Homo sapiens: one gene and its partner. The protein of the gene in region 1 interacts with the protein of each later gene in a pairwise test. Each region holds a gene or a part of one and is shown in the gene's direction. Other genes may lie near its edges.

Region 1 (10,161 bases):
ATGAGAACACTTGGACACAGGAAGGGGAACATCACACACCGGGGCCTGTTGTGGAGTGGGGGGAGGGGGGAGGGAAAGCATTAGGAGATATATCTCATGTAAATGAGGAGTTAATGGGTGCAGCACACCAACATGGCACATGTATACAGATGTAACAAACCTGCACATTGTGCACATGTATCCTAGAACTTAAAAGTATAATAAAAATAAATAAATTAATTAAATTAAATTAAATAAGATAAATGAATAAAATGCACCACATGTTAAATACTGATAAGTGCTAAGGATTAAATTAAGGTAGGGAGGGGAGTTAGAAGGGTCAGGGATTGCCATCTTAGATAGTGTGCTCTGGGGAAACCTCAGAAATTGAGCTGCTGGCAACATGGTCTGAAGGAAGTGAGGAAACACTCAGAGAGATGTAAAGTGTTCTAGGCAGGAGAAGAACAATTGCAAAATCTGTAAGCATGCCTGTCAATTTTTAGGAAAATCATAGAAACCAGAGAGCAAAGGACAGAGTGATAGAAGATAAACTCTGACAGATAATAGGAGTGAGAGATCCAAGCACAACCTATAGGCCCATATAAAAACATTGGCTTTTACCCTGAATGGAATTGGAGGTGTTTGAGCAGAGTGGCATAATTTACGTATGGTTTAACAGAACAACTCTAGCTATTGTATGGAGATTAGCTGGAAAAGAGACAAAGGAGAGATGCAAAGAAACCATTTAGGAGGCTTCTACAGTAATTTACTCAAGAGATAAAAGTGGTAGTAGGGTGGTAGTTGGAGGGATGGTAGGAAGTGGCATGATCTAGGACGTCCTGATGGGATGGCTATGGAGCATGAAAGGAAGACACTCCTTTCCAAAGGAAAGGACACTTAATTCCAAAATTCTGGTTTGAGCAAAAGGAAGGATGGAGTTACCGATTACTGTGATGGTTAATACTTGGAGATAATTGGGTTTGGGGAAATACGAAGAGCTCGAATTTGGACCTAACGTTTGAACCGCCTATTATTATGTTGAAATATATAAAATGAGAAATATTCAACTATTCTGACCTATAAAAATGAAAACTACATGTGTTTCAAATTAACAGATATTCAGGAGAAAACACTGACAATGCAATTGTTTGTTCATAGGGGAGGTACAGGAGGGACACACATATCTGAGAGTCACCAATATACAGATGGTGTTTAACATAAAAGAGTGAAAGTTGACAGGAAAAAAAAGGCCAAGAACTGGCTCCTGGGATATTCCAACCTTCAGAATGAGGGGAAAAAATAAGAAGATGCCAAAGACAGACTGGGAGAGTGAAAGATCTTGGATGCCAGGGGGGTAAATGTTTAAAGGAGAGAGTGATTGCAAGATGAGGACTGAGAATTAACCATTGGATGTAATAATATAGGGGTCATTAGTGACCTTAGTAAGAGGGTTTATAGATGACTGGCACAGACAGGAGTCTGATTAGAATGGGCTCAAGAGAGCATGGGAGGAAGGAAATTGGGGAATGTAAGTATTGTTGACTAACTCAAGAGTTTGGGTATATAAGGAGAAAGTTGGTGCAGAAACTGGAGGAGTTTAAGTCAAGTCAAGAGTTTTTGTTTAACACAGAAGAGGTTTCCTCTCAAATTATATATTGAAGATACTGATTCAGTAGTTAAAATTTGATGAGATAGCTAAAATTTGATGATCCAGGACAGAGACAGAATTACTCAAGTAATGTTCTTGAGAAGGCAAGATGAGATTAAATCAACTGCACAAGTGGAGGGGGTGGCCTTTGCTAGGACCATGAACAATTTATCTAAGGGAACAGGAAAGAAGAGAGAATATGTAGTCCCGATGCAACTATATGGGCCGATGTGATTATGGGAATTTTGAAAAATATCTTCAGATTGCTTCTATTGTCTCAGTGAAAAGAAAGTAAGGTGATCATTTAAAAGTGAAAATAAGAGATTAGGTATTGGAGGCTTGAGAAGAAAAGAGAAAGCAAGCAATATTCATCTGGAAGAGTGAGAGAATGAATGGACTAGAGCAATATAGTAAGATCACTTGGCAGCATTAGGAACCCACTGGAGGTTGGTGATCATGATTATAAAGTGAGACTATTCAAAGAGATTGAGTGTTTTTCTCCAGACACATTCAGCCATACAAGTAAGGGCACTGAGTAGGCAGATAGATTTAACCAGCAAAGCAGTAGACAGGAAAGAAAGTTGAAGATATAAATATGACAATGATTATCAAGGCTGTCCGTGGAATTTAAGTTCCCAGTAAAGAGGGAAGTGAGAACCTGATGATATCAGTTTCCATTAAAAGATGGTAGGATAAAAGGATTTTTCCAGAGAGAATGAAAAATGGATAGATTTGGATATTTTTTAAAACTGAATTAGAAAGTTAGAAGGTGGTGCTGTGAGAATAAAATGTTGAAATTGTGATTATAAAGGGATTACAACTTGGGGTAACAACAAAGTCAAGGGTATGAGTCAGTGAGGTAGGAGGCAGAACAAAATTGTGAACTAAGAGGCTAGGACTTCAGGGGGAAAAATCTATGAAAACATTAAAATTACCACAAATTACATCAGAAGTAGATCGGCTGGGAATAATAGTGAATCAGGTGCTAATGTCTTCAAAAACTGTGGGAGAATGACAGAGATATTTGCTACACATATATCTGATGAATAACTGGTATACAATATTGTGAACCTGAGTTTTTTAAAAGTAAAAAAATAGAAGATAGGAGCATTTCAAATAAGAAGATACAAGAATAGTAAATAAGCATATGAAAAAATGATTCACTTTAGCCATAAAAAAGGATGAGTTCATGTCCTTTGTAGGGACATGGATGAAGCTGGAAACCATCATTTTCAGCAAACTATCGCAAGAAAGAAAAACCAAACACCACATGTTCTCACTCATAGGTGGGAATTGAACAATGAGAACACTTGGACACAGAAAGGGGAACATCACACACCGGAGCTCGTCAAGGGCTGGGAGGAGAGGGGAGGGATAGCATTAGGAGATATACCTAATGTAAATGACGAGTTAATAGGTGAAGCACACCAACATGGCGCATGTATACATATGTAACAAACCTGCACGTTGTGCACATGTACCCTAGAACTTAAAGTATAATTTAAAAAAAGGAAAAATGGTTCACTTTATTGGTAATCAGAAATGCAAAATGAAATAGCATTTTACTACAATAGCTTGAAAAAGATTTAAGAATGTGGCAATAAGAAATGCTTGCAAAGATTTAGTGAAATGGAAACATACTCTGCTCACGTGAATGTAAGCAGGGAAAGCCATTTTGAAAAAAGAATGGGGAAAGGGGTATTACCTGTTAATTTGAAAGGCATACACAGTACCAATTAGTGATCTACTCCTACTTTCCTCATAAAAGTGTCAGGAAAGAGTCTTTGATTTAAAGCCAGCTATATCTGTGCATTTGATTCCCACATCCAACACAACCTGGGTATTTGATTTTGAAAAATTTGCTTTACCAGGGAAGTGAGGATGGTTAATGCATACAAAAAAAAAACACAAAGAATGAATAAGACCTACTATTTGATAACTTAAAGAGTGTAACTGGTGTGTTTGTAACTCAAAGGATAAATGCTTGAGGAGATGGATACCCCATTTTCTATAATGTGCTTATTCACACTGCATTTCTGTATCAAAACATCTTATGTACCCTATAAATATATACCTCTACTATATACCCACACAAATTTTTTTAATTATTTTTTTAAGAAAAATTTGCTTTACCACTGAGCCTCAGGTGTTGTGAAGAATGAAGAAGATCGTTTTTAAAATACTCAGGACTGGCAGGGCATGGTGGCTCACGCCTGTAATCCCAGCACTTTGGGAGGCCGAGGCGGGTGGATCACCTGAGGTCAGGAGTTCGAAACCAGCCTGGCCAACAAGGTGAAACCCCCTCTCTATTAAAAATACAAAAATTAGACGGGCATGGTGGTAAGTCCCTGTAATCCCAGCTACTTGGGAGGCTGAGGCAGGAAAATCACTTGAACCCGGGAGGCGGAGGTTGCAGTGAGCTGAGATCGCGCCATTGCACTCCAGCCTGGGGGACAAGAGCAAGACTTTGTCTCAAAAAAAAAAAAAAAAAAAACTCAGGGCTGGGCACGGTGTAACCGCAGCACCCAGCACTTTAGGAGGCCGAGGCAGGCGGATCACTTGAGGTCAGGAGTTTGACACTACACTGGCCAACATGATGAAACCTCGTCTCTACTAAAAATACAAAAATTAGCCAGGCGTGGTGGCAAGTGCCTGTACTGCCAGCTACTCGGGAGGCTGAGGCAGGATAATGGCTTGAACCCGGGAGGCGGAAGTTGCAGTGAGCCAAGATCGTGCCACTTAACTCAAACCTAGGCGACAGAGTGAGACTCCGTCTCAAAAAAAAAAGCTCAGGTCAGATGCAGTGACTCACACCTGTAATCCCAGCACTTTGAGAGGCCGATGAGGGAGGATCGCTTGAGCCCAAGAGTTCAAGACCAGCCTAGGCAACATGGCAAAACCCTGCCTCTACTAAAAATACAAAAAAAAATAGCCAGTATGGTGGCACAGGCCTGTAGTCCCAGCTACTCCGGAGGCTGAGGTGGGAGGATCACCAGAGCCTGGGAGGCCAAGACTGCAGTGAGCTGAGATTGCACCACTGCACTCCAGCCTGGGAGACAGAGTCAGACTCTGTCAAAAAAAAAAAAAAAATTCAAGAATCATGGAAATATAAGTGTTCAATTTAAAAATTAATTTTATACGGCCAGGCGCGGTAGCTCACGCCTGTAATCCCAGCACTTTGGGAGGCTGAGGCGGGCAGATCACGCGGTCAGGAGATCGAGACCATCCTGGCTAACACGGTGAAACCCCGTCTCTACTAAAAATACAAAAAAAATTAGCCGGGCGCGGTGGTGGGCGCCTGTAGTCCCAGCTATTCGGGAGGCTGAGGCAGGAGAATGGCGTGAACTCAGGAGGTGGAGCTTGCAGTGAGCCGAGATCGCGCCACTGCACTCCAGCCTGGGCGACAGAGCGAGACTCTGTCTCAAAAAAAAAAAAAAAAAGAAAAAAAAATAATTTTATTAATATTGTTTTAAATTTTAATATGATTAATAATTTTATAACTTTTTAACTTTCAGGATGAAACTATTCACAAATGTTTCACTTTTTTTTTTTTTTTTTTTAGACAGGGTCTCACTCTGTTGCCCAGGCTGGAGTGCAGTGGCACCACCACGGTTCACTCCAGCTTTGACCTCCCGGGCTCCATCGATCTTGCCATCTCAGCCTCCCAAATAGCTGGGACCACAGGTACGCACCACCACGCCAGGCTAATTTTTGAATTTTTAAATTTTTCATAGGGACCGAGTCTCACCATGTTGCCCAGAGTGGTCTTGAACTCCTGGGCTCAAGCGATCAGCCTTCCTCAGCCTCCCAAAGTGCTGGGATTACAAGCGTGAGCCACCACTCCCAGCTTCACTCAGAATTTTAAAATCAATTTTCCCAAGTAGAAATCTGTATTTTCTGAATACTCCTAAAATGAAATAATTTAGTAGCATTAAAGGAATTGTATGTAGCATTTGGATGGGTCGGAGAGATCTGAGTGGTCTTTTCTCTAGAATCCCTGAAATCACAAGAAAACATGAGTTCTAAAGGCGAGCCATCTTTGAAATTCTATTACAGTTGTTATCATTTTTTCTGAATAAGTTATACTGATCATTCTGCCCCCTAGAGGCCTGTAAGAGTATTTCCCCAGCGTGTCCGACCAATTATAGCCACGGATACTGGACAGCACGGATACCTCCGCCTCTAGAGCGGGTCCTCCAGGGGGCGGAGCATTGCGTGACATTTTGCGACTTCGGTTCCGCTGCCGTCATTTACAACATAATTGGCTTTGCAGTGCGCATCCGGGTCTGCATCAGGAAGGCCCAAGGGTCCAACGAGCTAAGCTGAGCCCGGTGGCCGGCGAGGCACCACCAGCAGCCCAGACTACGGTCCCCCAGGAGGCGCCCCGGGAGCTCCGAGGACTCGCCCCGCGTCGCGCGGTCCTGCGCCCCGCTCGTCCCAACCAGCCTCCCCTACCACCGACATCTGTTACTTCAAAGAGGACTTCACCGCCGCGCTCCCCACGTCCGCTGCTAGGCCCAGGAGCGCCGTCCACAGCGCCGTCGAGGCGATGGTCAGCCGGCCCCGCAGCCCCAGCGCCTTCCCTGCTCCCTGGTGGGGACAGCAGCCAGGAGGACCCGGCCCTGCCAAGCGCCTCCGATTGGAGGAGCCCGCGGGCCCCGAACCCCGCGCGGCACCCAGCCTGGAAGACCCGGCGGGGGACCCGGCCGTGGACGCGCTCACCTCCATAGTGGTCCTGGCCGCGGGCTGTGCCCTGCGTGTGCCCCTGGACGACGTCGACCTGGTGCTGGAGCCCGCACCAACGTCGATCCTGCGAGTGTCTCTCGGTGGACACACCCTCATCCTGATCCCAGAGGTCCTCCTGAGCTCCGTCGACGAACGCTCAGGAGCGCAGCACGACTCGTCTGCCGGGCTGGAAGTGGACGTTTTCCTGGGCGCTGTCAGGGAGGACGTCGTCGTCGAGCTGGAATTCTGCGCATCTGTCCCAGAGATCGCCGCCCAGGAAGAGGCCTACGAGGAGGACGCGGACCCCGAGTTCCCGGAGCTCCGGATGGACTCCCCAACCGGCTCAGCCGCTGGGCTCTACCCCTCCTCTAGAAGTATGTTCATCCCCTACCGGGAGGGCCCCATCCCAGAACCCTGTGCTCTGGCCCCCAACCCCAGTTCAGAGAGACGTTCTCCACGCCCCATCTTTGACCTGGAATTCCGCCTTCTGGAGCCTGTCCCCAGCTCACCTCTCCAACCTCTACCTCCCTCTCCGTGCGTGGGGAGTCCAGGTCCCCACGCGCGCTCGCCGCTCCCGGAACGCCCTCCGTGCAAGGCCCGGAGACGCCTGTTCCAGGCATAGACCCCCACCCCCACGTACACACAACAATCCTGGCCGCTCTGCTGGAGGCCCTCTAGGATTGCGGGAATCTCTCACATTGAGTATCCAACAACCTGGAAATTGGGCACCGCGTGTTCGGACAATTGCTTTTTCGCTGCACACTACCGATAGTAGGAGATGAAGACGTCAGCAAGAAAAGGTATATTCTAGACCTCATCTTTAAATAGAAAATCTGCGCAAGGATACCAGAAAATGTGTCCAGATTTCTGGGCTTCTTTACAAGGTCATATTCAGATCCCTTCATTCTCCCTCGTTTTGCATCAGTTGTTTCTCTCAAATTCCAGTCTTTCTCCAGCATCATACTGCCACTCCCGTTTCTCCCCAAACCAAGAAATCACCAGATCTCTTACGTTGTTAGTTACCTTGCATTTTTTTCCCATGAATTTTGGAAGACTTAGCCATGGCTTTTCTTGGGGTTTTTCCAACTGCTCTCCAAGGAAACTGCCAAATAGTATGCTTACTATACAAGACTGTATGTTGCTTCTTCCTAGGAACCCCTTATCCTGCTGAAGTTTTCTTCTAGTCTTCTAATTCTAAATGAAAATTTGTGTTGAATTTTATCAGATGTTTTCAGCATGCATTGTGTTATGTATTTTTTTTTAATTTGTTAATCTGGTGATTTCACCCAATGGAAAGTGTTTGCATTCCTGCTATTCCACATTATTTTATACCTTTTAAAATCTACCCTGAGTTTTTTCTCATGTAAACCAAACTTCTAACTTTTAAAATGTTAGTTTATTACTGTAGTTGCCTCATATTTTTATATAGGAGATAAAAGATTACTGGTAAAGCTGATGTCAACAAGCTGGTTTTATTTTATTTAAAAACATCAATAACTATTCAGATCTACCACTATGCCTTACCAATTATTTCCTACATTTTTATTCTTACATTCCACTCCTTCACTGTAGCTTCAGTTTTCTTTTTGTGAAGAATATCCTTTAATATTTCTTTCCACTGTGTCTTACGTGTGATAAACTATCTTGCTTCTGTAAGTCTGAGCATGTTTTTGTGTGATAAACTTTCTTAGAATTGACTGTAAATGTTTTAATTACACCTTCATTCTTAATTTTAAAATGATATTTAACTACAGTACTTTAAAGATATTAGCCCGTTGTTTTGCCATTTTTTGTTGTTGCAGGATGTCTTCTGTCAATCAAGTTGTTAGTCCTTTTATATGTAATTTGGCTGTTCGTGTGTGTGTGTGTGTGTGTGTGTGTGTGCGTGTGTGTGTAGAGAGAGAAAGACTTTAAGACAGGGTTCACTCTGTCGCCCAAGCTGGAGTGCAGTGGTGCAATCACGGCTCACTGAAGCTTCAACATCCCAGGCTCAAGTGTATTTTTTGTAGGAACGGGGTTTCACCATGTTGCCCACGCTAGTCTGGATCTCCTGGGCTCAAGTGATCCACCCACTTTGACCTCCCAAAGTGCTGGGATTACAGGTGTGATCCACCACATCTGGCCAATTTTAGTATATTTTTTAAAATGTTGATTTGCCTTTGGTGTTCTACAGTTTACTGTAATGTGTCTAGGGGTAGACTATATTTTCATTTAGCTTGATAGAATTTAGTTAACTATCAATATTGGAAACTATTTCTTGCCTGAAATACCACAAAATCTTAAGTTTCATCTCTTGGAATATTGCCTATATCCCCATGAAATCCAATCAGATGGGAGGCTGAGGTGGGTGGATCACCCGAGGTCAGGAGTTCAAGACCAGCCTGGCCAACATGGAGAAACCCCGTCTCTACCAAAAATACAAAAATTAGCTGGGCGTGGTGGCACACACCTGTAATCCCAGCTACTTAGGAGGCTGAGGCGGGAGAATCGCTTGAACTCAGGAGGCGAAGGTTGCAGTTAGCTGAGATTGTGCCACTGTACTCCAGCCTGGGCAACAGAACAGGACTCTGTCCAAAAAAAAAGAAAAAAAGAAAGAAAGAAAGAAAAGAAGAAATCCAATCAGATATATAATGGCACTGCTCAATCAATCTCCCCTGGCTCATAACATCTTGATATCTTAATATACATGTATGTTTGTGAGTGTATGTACACCTTATCAAATCGAACTTCCTGTATTTTTTTTTTTTTTTGAGATGAAGTCTCGCTTTGTCACCCAGGCTGGAGTACAGTGGCCCGATCTTGGCTCGCTGCAACCTCTGCCTCCTGAGTTCAAACGATTCTCCTGCCTCAGCCTTCCAAGAAGCTGGGATTACAGATGCTTGCCATCACACCCAGCTATTTTTTGTATTTTTGGTAGAGATGGGGTTTCACCATGTTGGCCAGGCTGGTCTTGAACTCCTGACCTCAAGTGATCCACCCACCTCGGCCTCCAAAAGTGAGCCACCACGCCCGGCCCCAACTTCCTTTATTCTTTAATCCAATTAACTACTCTGGTTGACTGCTTACAATATTCTGTTTGTTTTGTTTTGTTTTTTGTTATTCTGTTTATAGTTCTATAAGAAAGTTTTCATTTCAAAGAATTTTTTTTTCAGGATTTCTCAAGATTTTTGCTTCAAAACTTCCCACTTGGTATCACAAACTTCTAGTTTGTTCATGGAAGGTATTCCATCATTTATGTTTTGAAAATTTTTTAACTTTAATAGCTAAATTGATTCAATTTCCCCACAGGTAAAATCTCTCATTATTTGTTTTTAATCACATTAGATTGCCTCGTGCTTAGTAATTTTCATTAGTGGGCACACTGTGGGTGGGAATTCATCTTCTGAATCCCATATTTATAATTTTTATAGTTTCCACTTCCTAGTCTTCCCAGGACCACCATTCAGAATTGGGGCTTTGGAACTCTTGTAACTTGTCTTTCTGGAAAGTCACAGGTGTAATCAATTACACAGACGCTCATTCCAAGTTTCAGTTTGTCTTTCCTTGATCAACTACAGGCACAACCATGCAACAGTGGTTAGTGCCTCTTCAACCTTTGAACATTGGCAGTGAGCCAAATTTTAGCCCCCTCAAAGGAGCAGAAATCCCAGTTGCCATTATATAGTTTAGTCCCAGTACCATGAGTCATCAAAATATCAGCTACTCAGTCAGAGATTGGGTTTTCTACTCCATTTCTGATCCCTGGAAGCTTGTATCTTTCTTTTGAAAGTAGGTATCTGTAGGTAATACGGTTTAATATTTCCTAGCAA
Region 2 (10,166 bases), on another chromosome or scaffold:
CAAAATGGAACCGCTTGGCCATGGGCCAATCGCACAGAGGGTGGGACTGCTGGAAGATTCTTTCAAGACATCCCCCCTCCCTGATTTATGGCTCTCATCCCACCCCAGACCCAACCCCCTTCCTCTCCTGTGTGGGACTCCCCATTGGCCATAACAGATGGATGCAATTAAGAGGAAATCAGGAGAGATGGTGGTGGTGAGAGAATGGAAAATACTCCTATTCACCTGACACTATAATTCACTGGCTTCTGAGGGGAGCAGATGGATTTATGGGGATCCTACAGGCCTGGGCCAAGAAGAGCTTAAGAGCAGCAAATTTGAGGCCTCTCCCCTGCAGACCTTGTGACTGGAAGGATTCTAGATTGGTGGAGCGTGGGAAGTAGAGGGCTTCAGTGTCCTGCCAGAAAATCTCAGAGTTGGGGGAAGAGCCAGGAGGCCCAAAGAATGTCCTTGGAGAATTCCCATTCCAAAGCCAATGGGGCAAGCTGAAAGGAGCCTGAATCCTTTCACAGCTGAAATCCTTTCACAGCTGAATCCTTACACAGCTGAAAGGATCCTGAATGGGTCTGATTTCCTCAGGTTTGGGAGGGTTGTGTCTCATGTTCTGGGCAGGGTAATCAGGTCTGGGGTCCCACCAGGAGGCCAGGCCACCAGCACAGTGTGCAGGCTCAGCTTATGGTTCCCTTTACCTGGGAATGTTACCAACTGGGTAGCATGCTACCCACTCCCTGGTCTCTGGGAAATTGGTTTTGCTGGGGACAGGGAATTGCAGGAAACTAATCAGTGCCATTAGTGGGTTAGAAAAGCTCTTGGGGGCAGCAGCTTTTTCCAGCTCCCACCCCAGACATTGGCTGATGCACTGATGGTGTGGGAGGGGTGGGGTGAGACCAGCCTGGATTTCTCAAAAGCAATTCCATTTCTGTTCTCAGGGTAATAGAACTTCTACCCTCAGAGGAGTCAAAGAGGAGGCAGAACTATGGCAGGTAAGAGAAGAACTAATCTCCCCTCCCCAGCCCTCCCTGGCGATCCTTACCAGGACAGAGAGGAGAGAAGTGGTAGGGATCAGAGATTTCTGGGAACTTGCCCATCTTGTTGTTGTTTTTTTTCTCCTTATTTTATTTTATTTTATTTTTATTGTTGTTGGCTTTTTTTGAGACAGAATCTCACTCTGTTGCCCAGGCTGGAGTACAGTGACGCGATCTCAGCTCACTGCAACCTCCACCTCCCAGGTTCAAGTGATTCTCCCACCTCAGCCTCCTGAGTAGCTAGGATTACAGGTGCCTGCCACCATGCCTGGCTAATTTTTGTATTTTTAGTAAAGGTGGGGTTTCACCATGTTGGTCAGGCTGGTCTCGAATGCCTGACCTCAGGTGATCTGCCCACCTCGGCCTCCGAAAGTGCTGGGATTACTGGCGTAAGCCACCGTGCTTGGCTTTTTTTTTGAGTCTTGGCTTTGGGTTTTGATTTGTTTTCCTGAGTAAGGAGTGCAAAGCCCCCACACGAGCTCCTGCTTCTTGGCTTCCTGAGAAGGAGCCCTTTCTCACTCTTTCTTCCCAGCTTTTCCCCAGTGACACACTCAGGGTCTTCCTAGGGTGCCCCACCCACTTCCTAGAGGCTCCATTCACACTGCCAGAGTGTGTGCCACCAGATTCCCACTAGAGAATTCAAAAGCACTGTGCACAGGCAGGAGGTACTACAAATAATCCTGACCCAAAAGTAGGAGCGAGAAGGGGCTTCTTGCTCCTGGGGTGAGTGGGTGGATGCCCATTCTGTTGAAGGGCCACCCAGGAGGAAGAAGGTGGAAGGCCCCATCTCCTTCCCTCCTGCATTCTCCAGGAAAGCTCCGGAAGTCCCACATCCCTGGAGTGAGCATCTGGCAGCTGGTGGAGGAGATCCCTGAAGGCTGCAGCACGCCGGACTTTGAGCAGAAGCCCGTCACCTCGGCTCTGCCAGAGGGTGAGCCCAGAGGGGAGCTGCGGAGGGGAGGCAAGATTCTTGCTCTCCTACCTCCCAGGGGAGAGGGCTGGGGCACCAACCTTCCTGGGGACCCAGGCCCTATATCCATCACTAGGCCATAGCCCATCTCCCTCCTATCCTTGAGGGGGTATGTGCTTACCTGGAACCCTAGAAGTGACAAGAGGCCTGGGGAAAAGAGTGGATAAAGAGAGTGAAGAGACACCATGCTATTCTGGTGTGAGAAATATCTGGGGGGCAGGGATGGAAAAATGCTAAACTGGGGAGCAGGGAGAGGTTGTGGTGTTTCCTGGTCCCTGTCTCCTCACCTCAAAGCCACTGCTGCAGAGAGGCACTGTTAAAACAGTTAATTTGACTCTTCCCAATCCTCGCCTCCAGGCAGCAGCACCTGCTGTGGCTCACAGGCTGGGCTCAGGAAGGCCCTTCTAGAAGGCCACATAAGAAGGTGTCCAAGAAAGTGGTGGGAACAAAGGCTTATTGGGGAAAAAGTGGGAATTGGTGTTCTTTCCCCAACACACACCCTGCAATAAATTTTAGTTCATAGCATCCTGGTAATAAGAAAAAGAATGGTATTTTATTTTTCTAAATCTGGAACAAGGTAATGAGAAATTGGGAAGGGCCCTTGGGCCTTTGGTCTATATTGCTGTCTACTGAGATGTTCCTGGTGGGAGGCTGAGGGATTCCTTGAGGGCGGGCAGTTCCCAGGCCTCCATGACAGGCATGGAGCATGGGGTCTTTTCTGAGGCTGAAGCCTGTGTCTCAGCACCGGATCCTTCGGGCACCAAATAGTCACTCCTTCTCCTAGTTGTGATTCCTCCTCCCCCTAGAGAGTAGGAAGGGAAGCCAGAAAATCTCTTCTTTTTTTTTTTTCTTTTTTTGAGATGGAGTCTCGCTCTGTTGCCCAGGCTGGAGTGCAGTGGCGCAATCTCTGATCACTACAACATCTGCCTCTGGGGTTCAAGTGATTCTCCTGCCTCAGCCTCCCAAGTAGCTGGGATTACAGGCACATGCCACCAAGCCTGGCTACTTTTTGTATTTTTAATAGAGATGGGGTTTCACCATGTTGGCCAGGCTGGTCTCGAACTCCTGATCTCAGGTGATACGACTGCCTTGGCCTCCCAAAGTGCTGGGATTACATGCGTGAGCCCCTGCGCCTGCCCGGAACTCACAAAATCTCATTCCCTTCCTAGTCTTGGCAGAGCCTTCAGACTCCTTGCTCACCCACTCTCAAAGAAAAGCCCCTGTCCCCTAAAGCCCTGCTGGCCTCCCCTTTCACCAGGGCCAGTCCACCTGTCTCTTTCCCTCAAGCAGCCCAAGCTTCTGCAATATAGAAAGAGGAAGCACTGCCTTCTGGGTGCCTGGAATCTGCTGCTTTCCACCTGCGTATTCTGAGTCCTGAGTCAAGGGGACCAAGGCCTGGCATCCTTTTTGGAAGGGGCAGTTGAAATACCTAGATGAGGAAGACGATATAAATTAAAATTTAAATAAAGTATACAGTCACCCTCTCCCAACTTGTCAGTCTCCCTACTCGTCTCTTCCTGCTGCAGGGAAAAATGCTGTCTTTCGGGCTGTGGTCTGTGGGGAGCCCAGGCCCGAGGTGCGTTGGCAGAACTCCAAAGGTGACCTCAGTGATTCCAGCAAGTACAAGATCTCCTCCAGCCCTGGCAGCAAGGAGCACGTGCTGCAGGTAAGAACCGTAGCTCTTCCCCTGACCAGGGTCTACTCGTCTTTTCCCATCCCCTTGAAGGTCTCTTTGGCAGCCTCCAATCCCTAGAGGAGTAAGACATACTCCTCGTTGAGGTTGAATCCATTCAACTCCATCTCGTGACTCAAAGTTGCCTGAGCCAAGAATGGATCTGGCAGGCTTGCAGATACCTCTGCTGATAACCTGGGAGGTGGTGTAGACTGGAGCTTAAGAGCTCAAGCTCTGAAGTCAGACTGCTGGAGTTACAATCCCAGGCCCACCACCTTGGCTTTAGAAAGTCATTTTACTCTTTTTACCTCTGTCTCCTCATTTGTAAAAATGGGATAATAATAGTACCTACTTTAAGGAGTTGTTATGAGTTGTTGTTGAGATGGATCTCACTCTGTCGCCCAGGCTGGAGTGCAATGGCGTGATCTTGGTTCTCTGCAACCTCCACCTCCCAGGTTCAAGCGATTCTCCTGCTTCAGCCTCCCAAGTAGCTGAGATTACAGGCATGCGCCATCACGCCCGACTAATTTTTGTATTTTTAGTAGAGTTGGGGTTTCACCATGTTGGCCAGGCTAGTCTTGAACTCCTGACCAACAATGATCCATCCGCCTCGGCATCCCAAAGTGCTGGGATTACAGACATGAGCCACTGCGCCTGGCCAGGAGTTGTTATGAGGATGAAAGTTTTATGTAAAGTGTCTAGCTAGTGCCTGGCCTATAGTGAGTACTCAATCAATCTTGGCTAATCTGAGCAATATTATAAATACTAACCATGGGATACCTACTATGTGCCAGGCCCTACTATGTCCCAGGGGCTAAATATTTGACATAGATTATATATTTAATTCTAATTATTCACCACTTTTTTGAGGTATTATATTCCCATCTTACAAATGAAGAAACTGAAGTTGAGAGAAGTTAGGTAACTTGCCCAAGGTCCCACAGCTAGTAATACAGGACAGAGACTGTTTTCAGGCCCAGATCCATCTGACCCCAAAAAGCACACTCTTTCTACTTCGCTACATTGCCTCTGATGGCAAAGAATTGATACATCCACCCTCTGTCCCAAACCAGGTTTCTGTTTTGGGGTCTGTCTTTCCTGATAAAGACTGTGAGCTCCATGAGGACAAGGACCATGTCTTACTCACTTTATACCCCCAACACATAGCCGTGTCTAGTAAATGGAGGAAGGGGATGTGGTAGCCCTGTTCCTCTGCCCTTGGCCTCTCTGCAGATCAACAAGCTGACAGGCGAGGACACGGATCTGTACCGCTGCACAGCAGTAAATGCGTACGGAGAGGCCGCTTGCTCAGTGAGACTCACTGTCATCGAAGGTGGGCTTTTCCCTGAGTTTGTCTCATCAGTGCACAGGGCAGAGACCCACAGAGGAATCAGATGCCCCGTGGCTAGTGAGGGAGGGGAGGGGAGGGAAGGGAGGCCCATCCAGGCTGCTGCCGCTGCTGCAGCCCCACCTTGTGCTGGGCCCCGGGCTTCATCCACATGCACACTGAGTCTGCATGTGTTTAAAAAGGCACACCTTGGCAGATACTCTGAAGGATATTCTCTTGGCCCAGTAAATGAGCAGGACCTGAAAGCTGGCTTCTAGTCCTAGAGCTTCTGCTAACTCATTCAATGGGCTTCGTTTTCCTCTCTGGGTCTCAGTTTCTCCACCATGCAAAGGATATTTTGGACAGGCCTATGCCAGAGTTGACAAACAGGTCACACAAAGGCCAAATTCTCTCTCAGACATGTTTTTTTTGGTGTGCGTGGTGTTTGAAATTTTAAAAATTGTCAACCTGTAGTAATTAAAAGGTAGATATCTCTTGAGGAAGCAGGTCTAGTCTCGCCATTGGTTATGCTTACAATTGATCTGCCTGCAACTAACAGAAAATCCTACTAAGAGCAGCCTAAGAAATAACGATATTTCATTCCTTCACATAAGAAGTTTTGCGAGTGGCGTCCAGGGCTCATACCACAGCTCAGGGCTGCCATCGGAGAGCTGATTCCTTCGTTCCCACTGCTCTGCCATCCTTAGCAGATTGGCTTATCACCTCATGGCCATAAGAGGGCTGTGGCAGATTCAAACATAATCCATGTTCAAGGTAGGAAGGTGGAAGAGGTGGCCCAGGTCCATCTGCCTCTCTTATTTTTATTTTTATATTTTTGAGATGGACTGGAGTCTTGCTCCATCGCGTAGGCTGGAGTACAGTGGCACAATCTCACCTCACTGCAACATCTGCCTCCCGGGTTCAAGCAATTCTCCTGCCTCAGCCTCCTGAGTAGCTGGGATTACACGCGTTTACCACCATGCCTGGCTAATTTTTGTATTTTTAGTTGAGACAGGGTTTCACCACGTTGGCCAGGCTGGTCTCGAACTCCTGACCTCAGGTGATCCACCTGCCTCGGCCTCCCAAAGTGCTGGGATTACAGGCATGAGCCACTGTGCTTGGCCTTTTATTTTCTATTTTTTGAGACCTGTTGCCCAGGCTGGAGTGCAGTGGTGTGATTATGGCTCACTGCAGCCTTGACCTCCCAGGCCCAAGTGATCCTCCCACCTCAGCCTCCCAAGTAGCTGGGACTACATGCATGTGTCATCACACCCAGCTAATTTTTTTATTTTTTTTGTAGAGGCGGGGTCTCCCTGTGTTGCCCAGGCTGGTCTGGAACTCCTGGGCTCAAGCTATCCTCCCCCCTCGGCCTCCCAAAATGCTGGGATTACAGGCATGAACCATCACGACCAGTCCATCCACCCTTTTTATAGAGGAAGCAAAGGCTTTCTCAGAAATTCCTGGAGCTCATTGGTCAGGACAGTGTCACATGAGCACTGCTAGTTGCAAGGGAAGCTGGGGAAGGTGAGTGTTTAGCTTTTTCAGCCTCTCTAGTGGAAGCAGATGATGAAGAATACAAATGGCTGCAGGATTAGCCAAACAGCAATGTCTGACCTATTTGGCAATATTGGGCCTATACCCTGAAATGGCAGCTCCCAGGTGGAGTGAAAGAGCAGCTGCCCCTTTAGATACTCTTGAGTTTGTTGTGGTTGCCAGTGTCTGCTTCACGCATTTATGCCACCTCCCTGGCCCCTGCGGACACATGACTGGGCCTCCCCTGCATGAGATGATGCTTAGGTTGGTCCCCTTGGTCATGGTAAGGCTCTAGGGTAAAAAGGCTTATGATGGACAGACCCTCCACCCTGCTCCATCCCTCTTGCTGGGATCGTCCACGCCTTAGAGGACAGTGGGGAGAGCAGGGCTCTGGGACTCCATCAGTTTCTCAGGAAGACCATCAACATGTCTTGCTTCTCTCCCTGCTTGTCCACATCGACTCCTTCCTCTCCTCCCTGGATGTTGCAGTTGGCTTTCGGAAGAATCGGAAGAGGCACAGGGAACCGCAGGAAGGTAGGCAGATTTGTCAGAAACCTCCTTGGGGGCCTGTGGGGGATAGGCTACTCCTTTCCTGGTGTTCCCTGCCTGGTTGAGCTACCATGAACACCTTGTGGATCACCACCAGTCTTCAAGAGAGCCCCTTCCAAAGGCTCAGTTGTCAGCATGGACAACACAGAAAAGCTCTGCATCAACCCTCAGTCATCCCACCTGGGACTGAGGCCTCATTCCTGCTCCTTTTTCAGACCTCAGGAAGGAGCTGATGGACTTCCGGAAGTTGCTGAAAAAGAGGTGGGTTTGGGCCTGTCCATGAGGGATTTTGGAGGCTCCCATAGTATTCACCCCCTGCTATTTCCATAAGTAAGCTGGGCTTGAGCCCCACCTCTACCCAACACAGCAGGGAGCTAGACTGCCAGTAGCAGATGGGAGGATGGGAAGGGGACTGAACTGGATGGGAATGGGACAGAGCTCCAGCTCTGCCATTTCAAAGCTCTATATCCTTGAGTTAATCATCTCTCCTCTGATTTCCTCATTTGCAAAATGTGGTGGTCCACCAGAACAATGATGTACTTTTTTTTTTTAAGCAACAGAACAATGCAACACCCACTTTCCCCAGACATCCTACTTAGAAATCTACAATACAAGTTGTCAGGAGCATTTCTCCTGAAAGTTGTGGGGTGAGGCTGAGGCTCGCCCCACCCATCTCTGAATCCTTCTGGCCTCAACAGTGGTCAGTCCCAGAGATTCCAGGCTCTGCGTTTCCTCGAGTGCAGATAGAGCAGCTTCCCAGAACTACTTGGGACACCAGAGCCAGGTGGCCAACAGAGGAGCAGGGATTCCTCTGGCCTCTGACCTGCTAGCCTTGCTCCCCAGGGCCCCACCAGCCCCCAAGAAAAAGATGGACCTTGAGCAGATATGGCAGCTGCTGATGACAGCAGACAGGAAGGACTACGAGAAGATCTGCTTGAAGTATGGCATCGTCGACTACCGTGGCATGTTGCGCAGGCTGCAGGAGATGAAGAAGGAACAGGAGGACAAGATGGCACAGGTGCCTCACCCCATTCCCACCCCTCACTCCATGCCCACCCCACACACCTGGACCATAGGTGCCTCACACCTGGAGGTGGGCTTGGAGGCAGAACTTAGGAAACCAAGTATGATCAAGGGGCCTGTCTCCATCTAGTCCCCAGTGGGGTATCTGGCTAAGGCCCTGGGATCCCAGGTTGGTGTCCTGCCTTTGCAACCTGGTTCTGATACTTACTAAACTCTGGAGCTTTGGAAGGGTTAGGGCCTCTGTATCTTGGTGTCTTCATCTGTAAAATGGGAATTATAGTCATGCCTACCTTGTAGGGTTATTGGGAGGATAAATGAGAGAATGTAATTAAAGTACTTAGCTTAGTGCCTTGATTTTTGCTATCATTATCATTGTCACCAGATTGCGGGGGGGAGGTACCTGGTTTATTTCTTTCTTTTTTTTTTTTTTTTTAAGATGGAGTCTTGCTCTTTCGCCCAGGCTGGAGTGCTGTGGCCGGATCTTGGCTCACTGCAAGCTCCGCCTCCCAGGTTCACGCCATTCTCCTGCCTCAGCCTCCTGAGTAGCTGGGACTACAGGTGCCTGCCACCACACCCAGCTAACTTTTTGTATTTTTAGTAGAGACGGGGTTTCACCGTGTTAGCCAGGATGATCTCGATCTCCTGACCTCGTGATCCGCCTGCCTCGGCCTCCCAAAGTGCTGGGATTACAGGCGTGAGCCACCGCACCTGGCTACCTGGTTTACTTCTAAAGGCTTTCATGGAAGGGAATTTCACAGTTCCCATTAGCACTCTGATCCCAGAATCTTATCAGCTGTACAGGAATTTCTTTCCTGTGTCTAACTTAACTATAGCATAAGTCTAATTTTTCTTCTGAAAATGGAAAACAACTAGTTTTTATTATCCTGAAAATAGTATCTTATCCCCTTGAAAGATAAGCTTCCTTAAACCTAACACCTAGGGTCTCAGCCTTCTCTCCTCCAAGCTTTCTCATTGGCTTTAACACGGGACCTAGCACAGAGCTTTGCACACGGTAGGTGTTCAACTAATGTTCGTTAGAAGTACAGATAGATGGAAAAGCCCCACTGTGTTCTAGCAACTGAACACCTGGGGTCTTTTCTTGGTTGTCTTCCTGATCTGATCTCTCATCTTGGAGAATTTCCTTCCTTGAGGGGCTTACTTTCCCCCACTTGTAAAAGGGGCCAATGCATGCTCATCTGGAACGCTGTGGGCCTGGGATGGTACCAGAGCCTATGAGGGTTCAGAGTACCCCGAAGAGAGAGCTTCATGAGCTCTCCTGCTGGGTGTTTGTCTGCTTTGTAGTACATCAACACCATCTCCAGCTTAAGACACATCAGGGTCACCAAGGATGGGAATGCAAAGTTTGACTTGGAGCTGGATCTCAAGGATTCTCAGAGCAAGATTTACCTGTATAAGGTGAGGCTGGAGGGGCTATGGGTGGGGGGGATCTGGCAGGGATGCTTCAGGTCTAGTGGAGAGGGAACTATGGGTACCCTGCATTCCTCCAAGGGAACAACCAGAGCACACAAGTGGTGAGCCCCTCATCCCATGGAGTTCCTGGCTGGACCTGGACCAAACCCTGGTGTAGACCATCCATCCACAGGGACTTCTTATCTCACACTGAGCAACTGGGCTCTCCAGCTGGGCCTGTGATTCTCTGTAAATTGTGTCTAACACCAGAGCACGGGGGTGAAAAGAGGGTTCTGAGAAAGTGCACCCCTTTCCATCTGAGCTTTCTCTCCAGAGACTTCATACATCCCTACCTGGGCTCTAGGAGTAATTATCTGCCAACCAGATGGGGGCAGAGGCAGGTGGGGAGCAGTTGGTAAAATTTGGCTAGTTCTGTAGCCAAACTCATCCAGCTTCATCACTTATAAGCTGTATGACCTCAGACAAGATACTTATCTTCCCCATGCCTCGGCTTCCTCACTTGTGAACTGGGGATAATATAGGACCTGTCTCATGGTGTACTGCAGCGCTAAATGACATCATGTGTGACTTGCCCCTCCCCTCACCTCTCTGCTTATTCCTGCTTCTCTTCCCCTTGTCCCTCAGTTCCTGGCCCAC

Evidence for each region.
Region 2: the proteins of PRR23B (region 1) and IGFN1 interact in binary tests that used the Homo sapiens proteins (3 or more experiments, as listed by UniProt).

Annotation. Positions count from the first base shown.
Region 1 is NC_000003.12:139,016,677-139,026,837, reverse strand, and holds PRR23B (proline-rich protein 23B), read left to right. Parts: upstream 1-5,911; 5' UTR 5,912-6,176; coding exon 6,177-6,974; 3' UTR 6,975-7,807; downstream 7,808-10,161.
Region 2 is NC_000001.11:201,192,318-201,202,483, forward strand, and holds part of IGFN1 (immunoglobulin-like and fibronectin type III domain-containing protein 1), read left to right. Parts: intron 1-929; 5' UTR 930-976; coding exon 977-983; intron 984-1,836; coding exon 1,837-1,956; intron 1,957-3,521; coding exon 3,522-3,661; intron 3,662-4,900; coding exon 4,901-5,000; intron 5,001-7,016; coding exon 7,017-7,061; intron 7,062-7,291; coding exon 7,292-7,337; intron 7,338-7,919; coding exon 7,920-8,094; intron 8,095-9,401; coding exon 9,402-9,515; intron 9,516-10,166.